Regions from separate parts of the Homo sapiens genome. Here region 2 is linked to region 1. Evidence: fine-mapped expression QTL. A gene starts in region 1. The other region holds a variant in brackets. All regions are shown on one strand. Distances are between the middles of the regions. Region 1 holds the start of GCNT2 (glucosaminyl (N-acetyl) transferase 2 (I blood group)). Region 2 overlaps C6orf52 (chromosome 6 open reading frame 52).

Region 1 (2,915 bases):
TACATGAAAGAATATAGCCTCCCTTCTTCCGATAATTGCAATATGCTGTTCAATCAGAACAGAGTGCAAAGAAACAGATCCTTTACGCTGTAGGGTCCCCAGGGCCTGGGATTACAGTCTCCCTATTTCTTCTGGAAAACCACAGCCTACAGGTAACTACCCTCTATTTGGCCAATCTACTACCAGGTGCAGAAAGACTATTTACAAGTGACGACTCTCAAAGGCCTACATTTAAAAATAAGGAAAACAGAAAAGTAGCTTTGAGTTTGGCAAAACCTGAATTTACTTAGTAGACCTGTCTTTAATATCAGAAGATGGGTTTTCATAGAATGGCAATATGGATCTACTACTTTTCTACATGGCCCAGAGCTTCATTTTCAATTTTACCTATTATCAAATGAGGTTCATACCTCACAGGAATGTTCATACCTCACAGCAACTAATTAAATAAAATACATTTCAGGCTGTGGACGGTGGCTCACGCCTGTAATCCCAGCACTTCAGGAGGCTGAGGCAGGTGGATCACATGGAGTCAGGAGTTTGAGACCAGCCTGGCCAACATGATGAAACCCCATCTCTACTAAAGATACAAAAATTAGCCGGGCTTGGTTGTGCATGCCTGTAGTCCCAGCTACTCAGGAGGCTGAGGCAGGACCCAGGAGGTGGGGGTTGCAGTAAGCTGAGATCGCACCACCGTACTCTCGCCTGGGTGACAGAGTGAGACTATGTCTGGAAAAAAAAAAAAAAATTTAAATGCCAGACAGTACCAAGTACCTTATCAAATTCTGGAAACATTTTCCCTTGCCTGAAGGAACTGAGAAACATAAACCATTAAGTCTGAAGTGAACGTTGTTCTTTCCTACAAAGTTAAAAGTTGTAACTGAGATACAGAAGGATACTAATGATTTAGAGACAGATGGAAAACCCTCGTGCCCAGTAGGCCCATCATGTAATGAAACAACATACAAACATGCTATTCTTTGAAAAAAAAAAAACCTTTGAAAACAGAAATCTCATGACCAAATGACTCATTCAACATTTTTTGGTGTACTTACTTTATGCCCGGCACTGTGCTAGGTTCTGGAAATATAAAACATCCACGCAGCCCATTTGAGTACCAGCCTATTGGACCTTAAACTGCTGTCAGCGATTTAACAGAGGTAACACGAGAAGACCAGCTCCCCGCAGTTTCCTCCCTCCACCAGTTTCCCAGCACGCTGACCTCCACCTACCTCTCTCAGTTCCCAGGAGGGTAAGATTGCCCAGAGGCGTCCAGCAGTGAACACAGTAAGCCTGTTTAAGGTAAACGCAGTTTAACCCTAGCGTTTTAAGTGGAATAACAGAGGCTGGAATGTGAAAGTGGGAAGGTCTGTTTGCTTTCAGTCCCACCCCCAAGGCCTGCCCTAAGAGTCTGAGACAGGAGAACACACGTCTACAGAGAGCCTGCCTAGAGTCTGGATTTTTTAAGCTGCTGGATACCAGGTGCTACCTGACACCAGCTCATCCCCTGCCTCTAGAGTCCTGGAGGGCTTTGAGTTGATCACTTTCCACTCCAGGAATGTTATAAGAAACCGCTCAGAAAGGTAACTGCCCTGGGTGTAACTGGGTTTTTCATGAGGACACTCCAAGATAGACCTCAGGATAATTATTTGGGTGTTTTCCTAAGACTACCCTCCATTTTGCCCCCTTAGAGGCTGCTTTTTCAAGAGGGGAAGTTTTGGATTCCCTCACAGACCCCTCGTGTTTAAGGTTCCACTCTTATGTTTAGTTATTGGTAGGAAATCTTATAGTCTCTGCCCCAGGGTAACCTCTAACAGATTTAGATATGTGTTCTGCTCAAATGCTACCCACACTGGGGAAGGGGAATCCTAAGGTGGCAGCAGAATTTAGTAGAAAATGCCCTGGGCATTTTCAGAAGGCAAGTTCTCTCCTCTCTAATGCAAGCTGTATATCTTGAGCAAGTCACTTCCTCTCTCTGAACCTCTGGCTTTTCCTAGGCCAGGCAAACGGGCTCTTTACATACCCTTTCAGGAATGAACTGATTCCTGTCCCAGGAAACAAGCTAGTCATACCGTGCATTTAGCCATATCCCTCTCTTCTGCCAAACACTTTGCAGTCAGAAGCAGCTTATAAAATTCAGTGGGGATAAAGCAGGGTATGGTGGTGTGCACCTGCAGTTTCAGCTACTAGGGAGGCTGAGGCGGGAGGGTTGTTTGAGCCCAGGAATTCTGAGACCAGCCTGGGCAACATAGTGAGACATCAACTTAAAAAAAAAAAAAAAAAAAGAAAAAATCCAACTGAGTTAAAAAAAATTTTTTTCCAGTCATAAAGCCAGGATAAACTGAAGAAATAGCAAATCAACTTTTTTTTTTTTTTTTTTTTTTTGTGACAGAGCCTTGCTCTGTCACCCAGTGCAGTGTCACAATCTCAGCTCACTGCACCCTCTGCCTCCCAGGTTCAAGCAATTCTCCTGCCTCAGCCTCCTGAGTAGCTGGGACTACAGGCATCCACCACTATGCCCGGGTAATTTTTGTATTTTTAGTACAGAAAGGGTTTCACCATGTTGACCAGGATGATCTTGAACTCCTGGACTCAAGTGATCCACCCCTCTTGGCCTCCCAAAGTGCTAGGATTACAGGCGTGAGCCACCACACCCGGCCCAAATCAATGATTATTTTTCTTTTCTTTTTCGTTTTTTTTTTTTTTGAGACCGAGTTTTGCTCTTGTTGCCCAGGCTGGAGGGCAATGGCACGATCTTGGCTAACCGCAGTCTCTGCCTCCTGGGTTCAAGCAATTCTCCTGTCTCAGCCTCCGAGTAGCTGGGATTACAGGCATGCGCCACCATGCCCTGCTAATTTTTTGTATTTTTATTAAAGACGGGGTTTCTCCATGTTGGTCAGGATGGTCTCGAACTC
Region 2 (2,915 bases), 170 kb before region 1:
CTACTCGGGAGGGTGAGGCGGGAGAATCGCTTGAATTAGGGAGGTGGAGATTGCAGTGAGCCGAGATCCCGCCACTGCACTCCAGCGTGGGCAAGAGTGAGACTGTCTCAAAAAAAAAGTCATTCTTTCTTTACTTTGTGCTAGTTATCTTCATTGTGTTACAAAAAATCAAATTATTTTAGGATTTAGAATAGATTACTTTTTTTGTAATGTGTAAGTTTCCACCAGAGAACCACTAAGATTAGAGGAGTGTGAAGTAAGTGTCCTCTGGACGTGAGACAAGGTATTAGTAAGCAGGACATTGTAAGTTTCACATTTTATCTTTAAAAATGTGCCTTTATGCATTTTACTCCACAACATATCTGTTTATTTTAATGCAAAAGTGTTACACCCTCATCCACAAATTAAAAACCGCTAAAACTTTCAAAATCATGCTTTGTATATTCTGTTACTTCTGGAATGTCCCTGGTGCCCTGTCTCCTTACCCCAGGGACATCTCAACTGCTGTTTGAGAAGTATTAATACTTGTTTAATACACTTTTTAAAATAAATTTTAGCTTATCACCATAAAAAGGTGATTATTTAGAATCTGTTACCAGACTGTCACACTTTTACTTGCTTAAGTAACTTTTGTTCCAACCAGGAATTTTAGAATATAGTTGGTTCTAGAATGGAAACCATGGTGTAAGCACCATGAACATAACTCAAAGTGGTTTTACTTTAAAAAGAAAAAAAAACCCCAAAACTTAGAAATCAGTGGAACCAATTACAGAGCTCAGAGGACTTAGACAACATCTAGTCCAGGTGTTACTAATCTGGGGGTTCCTGGATAAATTTCAGGGGTTTTGAATCCCATGAAATTATATGCAAATATGTGGATATACATTTTTGGAGGAGAGCATTAGGATTTTAAGGGAGGGAGACCACCCCTCATATTGTCTTATGCCCAATTTCTGCCTCCAAAGAAGAAGTAAAAACTAAAAGGCAGAAATGAAATCCACAAGCAGACAGCTCGGCACCACACTCTGGGCCTGGTAAAGATCGACCCCTGACCTAATCGGTTATGTTATCTGTAGATTAGAGACATTGTATAGAAAAGCACTGTGAAAATCCCTGTCCTGTTCTGTTCCGTTCTAATTACCGGTGCATGCAGCCCCCCAGTCATGTACCCCCGCTTGCTCAGTCAATCACGACCCTCTCACACGGACCTCCTTAGAGTTGTAAGCCCTTAAAAGGGACAGGAATTACTCACTTGGGGAGCTTGGTTGTTGGAGACGTGAGTCTTGCCGAAGATCCCGGCCGAATAAAGCCCTTCTTTCTTAAACTCG[C/G]TGGCTGAGGGGTTTTGTCTGCGGCTTGTCCTGCTACAATTTAAGTACTGTTTCAAAAAGATTAGTGTAAGCGTACCTCATTAAGGGTAAAATGCAGTGATTCAGTCTTAGGTTATAAATGCTGAGATATGTCTGGAGAAGTGACTTTTTCAAGAACACACAGCTAAATAACAGAGCCAGCAATGCTGCTCTTTTTTATGTGTCCTCGGCCTTGAACATTCTCTTTAACAGAGAGGAAAGCAGCAGCATTTCATTTTATGCATGGCTGTGGCAGTAGTTTCAGGTCTTAGATTGCGGATTTTCATTGTCTGAAGAAAGACAAAAGAGAATTATATACCTGTTTAACTGGATTGGAACTGAGCATAACTTCCTGTAAATCCTCCTATTCTCTTTCCAAATACAGGATGTAAAAAGCCATTTAATCTCATTCTTGTGAAATCTGCAGCTGCCAAGAAACAACCAATGTTGAGAGTTCATTAAACACTAAAGCACGAGAGGATATTGTTTTGTAGCTTTGCTTTTAAATTATTGATTGAAAAGGTTTTTGCTCTTGAGCTATGCTCTGATTTATTCATTCATTCAACAAATATTTGTTGAGTGCTTAGCTTCGGTTTGTTAAAGTAAAAGCTAGTTTTTCTTCTTGGGTGGTTGAGGGTGGTAAAGTGGATATCCTGGGGTACAAGCAGGACACAGTAGAGAAAAATCAGCCCTGTTAGAAATATGAGAGTCTCATATTCCTGCTGAATTCTCCTCTTTCTCAATGTGACAGGCAGCAACTCTGTTAAATTCAAGGACTATGGAGGTTGCACGTGAATGTATTCCTGGGGGTTTTGGTCTCCTTTGTATTTCCAGCACGAAGGGAAGTGGAGATAATGCTGTACGTGCCCTGAACCTGTCCAGTAGTGTGCCCCAATAGAAATTTGCTTCACCTGATTCATGGGAGTAATCTAGTTGAAACAGAAGGTTTGCATTTGGGGCTTTTAGTGAGCAAAACAGCGCTTGTGAGCCCTTGTCACTGTCATCTCCAAGGCCTAAGTGCCCATCTTTACCCTGGGATCTTGCTTACAACCTTCTGTTCCACAGCTGCTGCCATCTTCCTAGGTGGTTGCAACATGATTACATTGACCTCTCTCTTCCTCAGCCTCCTTAGCACCTCCTCAATGTTCAACTTCCACGTTGCTTTCCAACTGCAGCCTCAATGCTTACCTGGTTATAGCCATAATTGTGATTTTCTTTGTGTAAAATAAAGTCAGTCCTAAAGTGAGAGAAAAAAAATTTTACAGGAAAAGAATCTTTAACTGACATGTTTTATTGGCTGTCTAAACTACAGTAGTTAGGAATTGTGTTTTACCTGACATAACAATAGTGGTCTAAACAAGACATTAAGTAAACCAGCGGTAGGCCAGTCTAGTGCTAGTGGAAGGAGTCCTTAGTCATTGGTGACCTAGACTCATTCTGTCTTGGATCCCAGTATTCTTCTGCATGATGCCTTCCTGGATGTCACCTCATAGTCCAAGATAGCTGCAGAGTTATTCTGACACCAGCCGTCATATTTGTAATCCCAGCACCAGACCCTCCAGCTAAGCA

What was found.
Region 2: its variant is fine-mapped to the expression of GCNT2 in whole blood (TOPMed, PIP 0.93).

The regions. Positions count from the first base shown.
Region 1 is chr6:10,519,735-10,522,649 of GRCh38, reverse strand. It overlaps GCNT2 (glucosaminyl (N-acetyl) transferase 2 (I blood group)), which reads right to left and starts at 1,299. Exons shown (of 5, transcript NM_145649.5): 1 at 1,233-1,299. LOC101928146 (a long non-coding RNA gene) reads left to right here and starts at 1,244. Exons shown (of 3, transcript XR_001743961.2): 1 at 1,244-1,302. RefSeq lists enhancers at 953-1,012, 2,733-2,915.
Region 2 is chr6:10,689,657-10,692,571 of GRCh38, reverse strand. The region is part of intron 1 of C6orf52 (chromosome 6 open reading frame 52); the gene reads left to right. It also overlaps a transcript of PAK1IP1 not described here. Among named protein-coding and RNA genes, the nearest start is that of C6orf52, 3.5 kb to the left of the region's middle. The variant C/G (reference allele first, on the strand shown) is at 1,329.